Linked DNA regions of Homo sapiens: region 1 is linked to region 2. The links come from fine-mapping of genetic effects on gene expression. A gene starts in region 2. The other region holds a variant in brackets. All regions are shown on one strand. Distances are between the middles of the regions.

Region 1 (2,923 bases), 56 kb after region 2:
GCTGAGATCATGCCACTGCACTCCAGCCTGGGCGACAGAGCAAGACTTCATATCAAAAAAAAAAAAAGAATCTTATTCAGATCACCTCATTAAGTCCTCCCCAAAACTCTGGGGTAGGTGACAGTATCCATCCTCCCTTCAGAGAGGCTGACTAACCTGTCCAAGGCATGTAGCTAGGAAGTGGCAGAGCTGGCATTTGAATGGTGTTAGGACAGGCTAGGTTATTGCTGTGGTAACACATGATCCCCAAATCTCTGTGGCTTACGACAGCAAGCTCTGTGCCCACAGAGGTCAGCCCCAGCTCTGATCTTATGTCCTCGCCCTGAGACCCAGGCCGCTGCAGCCTCCATTGCGAACATCACCAGTCACCACAGCACAGAAAGATACACATGTGGCTGGGTGTGGTGACTCACGCCTGTAATCTCAGTACTTTGGGAAGCTGAGGTAGGTGTGGATCATTTAAGGTCAGGAGTTCAAGACCAGCCTGTCCAACATGGTGGAACCCCATCTCTACTAAAAATACAAGAATTAGGCAGGTGTGGTGGCAGGCGCCTGTAGTTCTAGCTACTCGGGAGGCTGAGGTAGGAGAATCACTTGAACCCAGGAGGTGGGGGTTGCAGTGAGCCTAGATCATACCACTGCACTCTAGCTTGGGTGACAGAGCAAGTGACTCTGTCTCAAAAAAAAAAAAAAAAAAAAAAAAAGGAATGCCATGCACGGTGACTCATGCCTGTAATCCCAGCACTTTGGGAGGCTGAGGTGGGCAGATCACGAGGTCAGGAGTTTGAGACCAGCCTGGCCAATATGGTGAAACCCGTCTCTACTAAAAATACAGAAATTAGCAGGGCATGGTGGTGTGCACCTGTAATTCCAGCTACTAGGGAGGCTGAGGCAGAAGTATCGCTTGAACCCGGGAGGTGGAGGTTGCAGTGAGCCCAGATTGCACCACTGCACTCTAGCCTGGGAGACAAAGGGAGCCTCCATCTCAGGAGAAAAAAAAAAAAGAAGATACACACGTCCTTTCTGCTCACAACTCAGTGTCCTACTGTCCTTGTCGTGCAACCCACCGAACCACCACAAGGCCAGGAAGTACAATCCTTACAAGTGCCCAGAAAGGGGGAGAACTGGAATATTCGAGGCACAGTGCTCACAGTTACCACATAGTTTCTAATCACCAAGCTCGACTCAGTCCCTCAGTGCACTGAGCTGCCATTTCCTCATCGGAAAGGTGGGAATAGTAATTCTACCTTGCAGGGTCATTGTGGTGAATAAATGAGACAATATACAAAAATCTCAAGCCTAGGAACACTGAGTCGTAGCCATTAGTATGTTCATGTGTGAAGTTCAGGAATACTCTGGGGCTGTTCAGTTCGACCCTTTTTCAGTGCAATGACAAATCAAGATACGGGATTTAGAAGAGTCCTCTGAAACAAGAGGACAAGTTTGGGAAATGCTGCTGCTCTCTGAGTGCATGAAACCACCTTCAGGGAACCCAGAGAGAAAGGAAAATTTCCAGGAGGACAATCAGTGGCAACAGCCAATGTGCAAATGTGATTATGTCAGCATACACGCAGACTGCTGAGCGCTTCTCCAGGACTCTTCATTTAAGACTAATTAAATGCTTGGAACCAGGAAGATTGAGAGGGTCCTCTCCAGGAAGCTATTCCAGGCCAGCAAGACACTTCAGGGTCTATTTACAGAGGTGGAACGCTCCAGAGGAGGAGGAAGAAGAGGGTAGCTCAACTGAGAGCACTCCAGAGGAGGAACAGGAGGCCAGAAGGGCTGAA[A/AATCAC]ATCACTCAGGATATTGCAGGGTCCTCCCGCCCCAACCTTGGCCTCCGAGGGTCTGAGGTTTTGTGTGATGTAAGAAAACAAAACTAGGGTTTGTGCTGGTGATTGCAAAATGAGAACTGCCTGTGGAATGGCATGGGTTCGTTTTCCTTTGCCACGGTGAAGAATTACCATAAATTTAGCTGCTTGAAACAACACAAGTTTATTGTCTTACAGATCGGGAGGTCAACAGTCCGAAGTCAGTTTCACTGGGTTAAACCAATTCTGCCAGCCGAGTTGGTTCCTTCTGGAGGTTCTCAGGGGAGAATCTGTGCCCTTGCCTTTTTCAGTTTCTAGGGGTCACTGGCATTCTTCAGTTCATGTCCCCTTCCTCCGTCTTCAAGGCTCAAATCCAGTTTCTGCTTCTGTCATGCACAGCCTTCTCTTCCATCATCAAATCTCCTTCTGCCTTCCTCTAATAAGGACACTAAATCAGTACATTTAGGACGGACCCTGGCAACCCAGTACAACTTCTCATCTTAAGATCCCTAATTTAATCACATCTGTAATTTTCCCTTTTGCCGTCTAAGGTAAGAGCTATAGGTCCCAGAGATTAGGACCTGGGTATCTTTGGGGCCATTATTCAGGATACCACACAAAGCTTTTGAGATGGTTTGAATAGCAAAAGGGCAACAATTGTCTTAGGCCATCTTGCATTGCTCTAAAGGAATACTCAAGGCTGGATAATTTATAAATAAAAGTTTGTTTGCCTCATGGTTCTGCAGACTATACCAGAAGCATAGTGCCAGCATCTGCTTCTGGTAAGGGCTTCAGGAAACTTCCACTGATGGTGGAGGGTGAAGGGGAGCAGGCTTCACATGGTGAGAGAAGAGGAAAGAGAAAGAGGGCAAGGCAGCTAGGCTCTGCAACAACCTGCTCTTGTATGAACAATTCGAGCAAGAACTCACTCATCACCATGGGGAGGGCACCAAGCCATTCAAGAGGGATCCACCCCCATGACACAAACTCCTCCCACTAGGCCTTACCTCCAACCTTGGGGATCACATTTCAAAACATGAGATTTGGAGGGGACAAACATCCAAACTATATCAACCGTGAACCCAACTGCATCCATAGATCTTCCACTTGGCCCTGGGGT
Region 2 (2,851 bases):
GTGTCATTCTCCTAGGCTGCTAAGTGGACAGAGCTAGGGAATATATGCATGTATGAACATGTGCAAACACACATTACATTTGTATTTATTTCTTTTCTTTTCTTTTTTTTTTTTTTTTTTTGAGGCGGAGTCTCCCTCTGTCTCCCAGGCTGGAGTGCAGTGGCGCGATCTTGGTTCATGGCAACCTCCACCTCCTGATTCAAACAATTCCCCTGCCTCAGCCTCCCGAGTAGCTGGGATTACAGGCATGTGCCACCACGCCTGACTAATTTTTGTAGTTTCAGTAGAGATGGGGCTCACCATGTTGGTCAGGCTGGTCTCAAACTCCTAACCTCAAGTGATCCACTGGCCTCGGCCTCCCAAAGTGCTGGGATTACAGGCTTGAGCCACCACGCCCAGCTTATTTGCAATTATTTATATATTTAGCAAATGTACTGAAAACCATGGGTTCACACTGATACCTCCAAAACCAAGTCAACACCAAATGGTTATCTTAGTTTTCTCTCTTTCTGTGTATACCACTCCCTTCACCAACAGTAAGAAAGCAATTAGGCTACATTTTATTGGTAGATGAAAATTAGGTGTAGAACTTCATGGATTCTAAACAAAGGGACTGAGTGATTAGGAGAATAGGAATCAAATATATACTTTCCCCCCTTCGGTTGGCTCTGTGAAAATTTATATCAAAATTTGCCTCTATAATCTCATTTTTAATAAAAAAGCAGGCAGATGTTGGAAATGGTATTTGTTTTTTCTTTCTAGAGCATCTGGGGGTGTCTAGAAATGGAAAATAGTGTTATTGTATAGAATTATGCATCATGTTCCTTAGTAATGAAAAATGAATGCGTATTCAATCAAAAAGTGAAAAAAAAACTTTTATTAAATGATGTTGAACTTTGTTTTCATCTTCAATAAGCCTAGAAGCATCCTTTCTAGAAGGTTACTTTCTGAATTGTGAGCAGTGAAAATTTGAGAAGCCCTCCTATTTATCAAAAGTCAATGTTTCTTTTAATTAAAAGGGCTTAGGAAAAACAAAAAGCACTTTTCCATTGCATTGTTTGCAGTTGTTCTTCATTAGACAATACCAGGTTTCCATTAGCCTTGTGTAATTCAAGAGCCCAAGAACCACTGTCAAATGCTGAAGATGTTACTGCATAAGTCTGATTTAGAACAGCTATTTGGATTTCAATTATTAATGAAATTAGTGTCCTGAATGTCAGCAAGAGTACTGCCTTAGGTAAAGGCTGTAAAGGAAATCATATTAGTGTGGAATTTCCTCTCCTTAGGGGCTCCTCTTAGATTACATTATTCACTTAGCTATCTCCTGTCAGGAAAATGGAAATGTTGGCCACGGTCTGATCTTGGGGCAGAACCAAAGGGAGAAGTTAAGGGATTTCATGACGGCATCAATTCCAAAACATTTGCATGGTGCTGGTATTGCCTTTGGTCCCACTGAGTGTTTACAAAATAGCACCAGTAAGGATAGCATCAACTGGCAAACGGAGAAGGAGGAGAACAGAGTGGAGAGGAACCCTGTTAGGAGAAATTGAGCGGCATTCCATCTGGTAGGCAAGTTTGCATTTCTCCTTTTTGGGATCTGCCCAGGAATGTTGTCAAGTGTAATGGCTCCCCTGTGGGCCTGCATCCTGGTGGCTGCAGGTGAGTCCTTTTAATAATTTTACTAGGCATTAAGGATTAACTCTTAGAAGATAGAGACAATATTTGTATACACCGTACTGTAGGACTTCTCAGGCATGTTTGTTTTTATTCATCGTCTGTAAAATGCCAGTCCTGTGAAGCTATATGGAAAACAATGATTTGTTTGTGACTTGGCTCCTATGATTGCAAATACGTATACATATAGCATCAGACTGTGGGGCTTTTTACACATAGCTGAAAATATGCTCTGAAATGTTATAATTGCTTGATAAATCTCTGCTTCTCTAGAAATCAAGCTCTCTGCAGGTTGATTGAGAGTTTGGGGCATTCTTTTTCAAATTTGCTTTTATGTGTGGATAATATGTTTTTATTATCCAAAATAGTCTTGGCTTCATTATCAGCTGTTAGCAGCCCAGAGAAAAAGTCCACTAGATTTGTCATGGCTACAGATATATGTATATCATTTTGGTATTAGAGGCCTTAACATCTCGCCTTACAAAATCTATATAGGTGATGAGTATATCTCTAAAGACAGGTACTATAAACTGGTAAGTTTTGAGTCTACAATTCCTCTTAAAAGTAATTTAGAAGTTAATACTTTTTTTTCTAAATTTCTAGAACTATATTTCCATGGCACCAGTATTAACTCTACTGAATTGAATCATTTTAGTTAGGATACAATTGATTCTTAGTACATGCGCACAAATCAAGAATTTATGATTATGCTGGTGTTCTCAACACCCCACTTTCTTGAGGTTTCTCCTAGAGCTCATATCTGAATTCTCAAGTTTTAGGATGTAACTGGAAGTGGAATGAGTCAATTATAGAGATGAGTTAGAAATTTGGTAGCCAGGAAGCTGGAAATGATTTTTTTATTGGGTAGAGAAGAAAAATAGCCACTTATCATTAAAGTATAAAAATCCTGGATGTTGAACATAAAGGATAAAAGCATATCTTAATTGTAAAAAATAAAAACAGAGGAAGTGTCATTAAATGCCAAATGGGTTTCTTAGTAGAAAATAATCGTGAACATTAAACTAAGATAAAATAGAAAAATGAAGGTAAGAAAACAGACTAAGTTCTTAACAATATCTCTCTAATGTTTTGTATTATGCATGATTTTTGTTCTAAATGTAGCAGAAAGAAGTGTTTTAATAGTGTCTGATAACCAGTGCTTTACCATAAATCATTC

The links. PIP is the estimated chance that this variant, and not a neighbour inherited with it, causes the effect.
Region 1: its variant is fine-mapped to the expression of HTR3B in whole blood (TOPMed, PIP above 0.99).

The regions. Positions count from the first base shown.
Region 1 is chr11:113,959,293-113,962,215 of GRCh38, forward strand. No RefSeq gene overlaps it. Among named protein-coding and RNA genes, the nearest start is that of HTR3A, 14 kb to the right of the region's middle. The variant A/AATCAC (reference allele first, on the strand shown) is at 1,788.
Region 2 is chr11:113,903,327-113,906,177 of GRCh38, forward strand. It overlaps HTR3B (5-hydroxytryptamine receptor 3B), which reads left to right and starts at 1,470. Exons shown (of 9, transcript NM_006028.5): 1 at 1,470-1,659. The coding sequence starts at 1,608.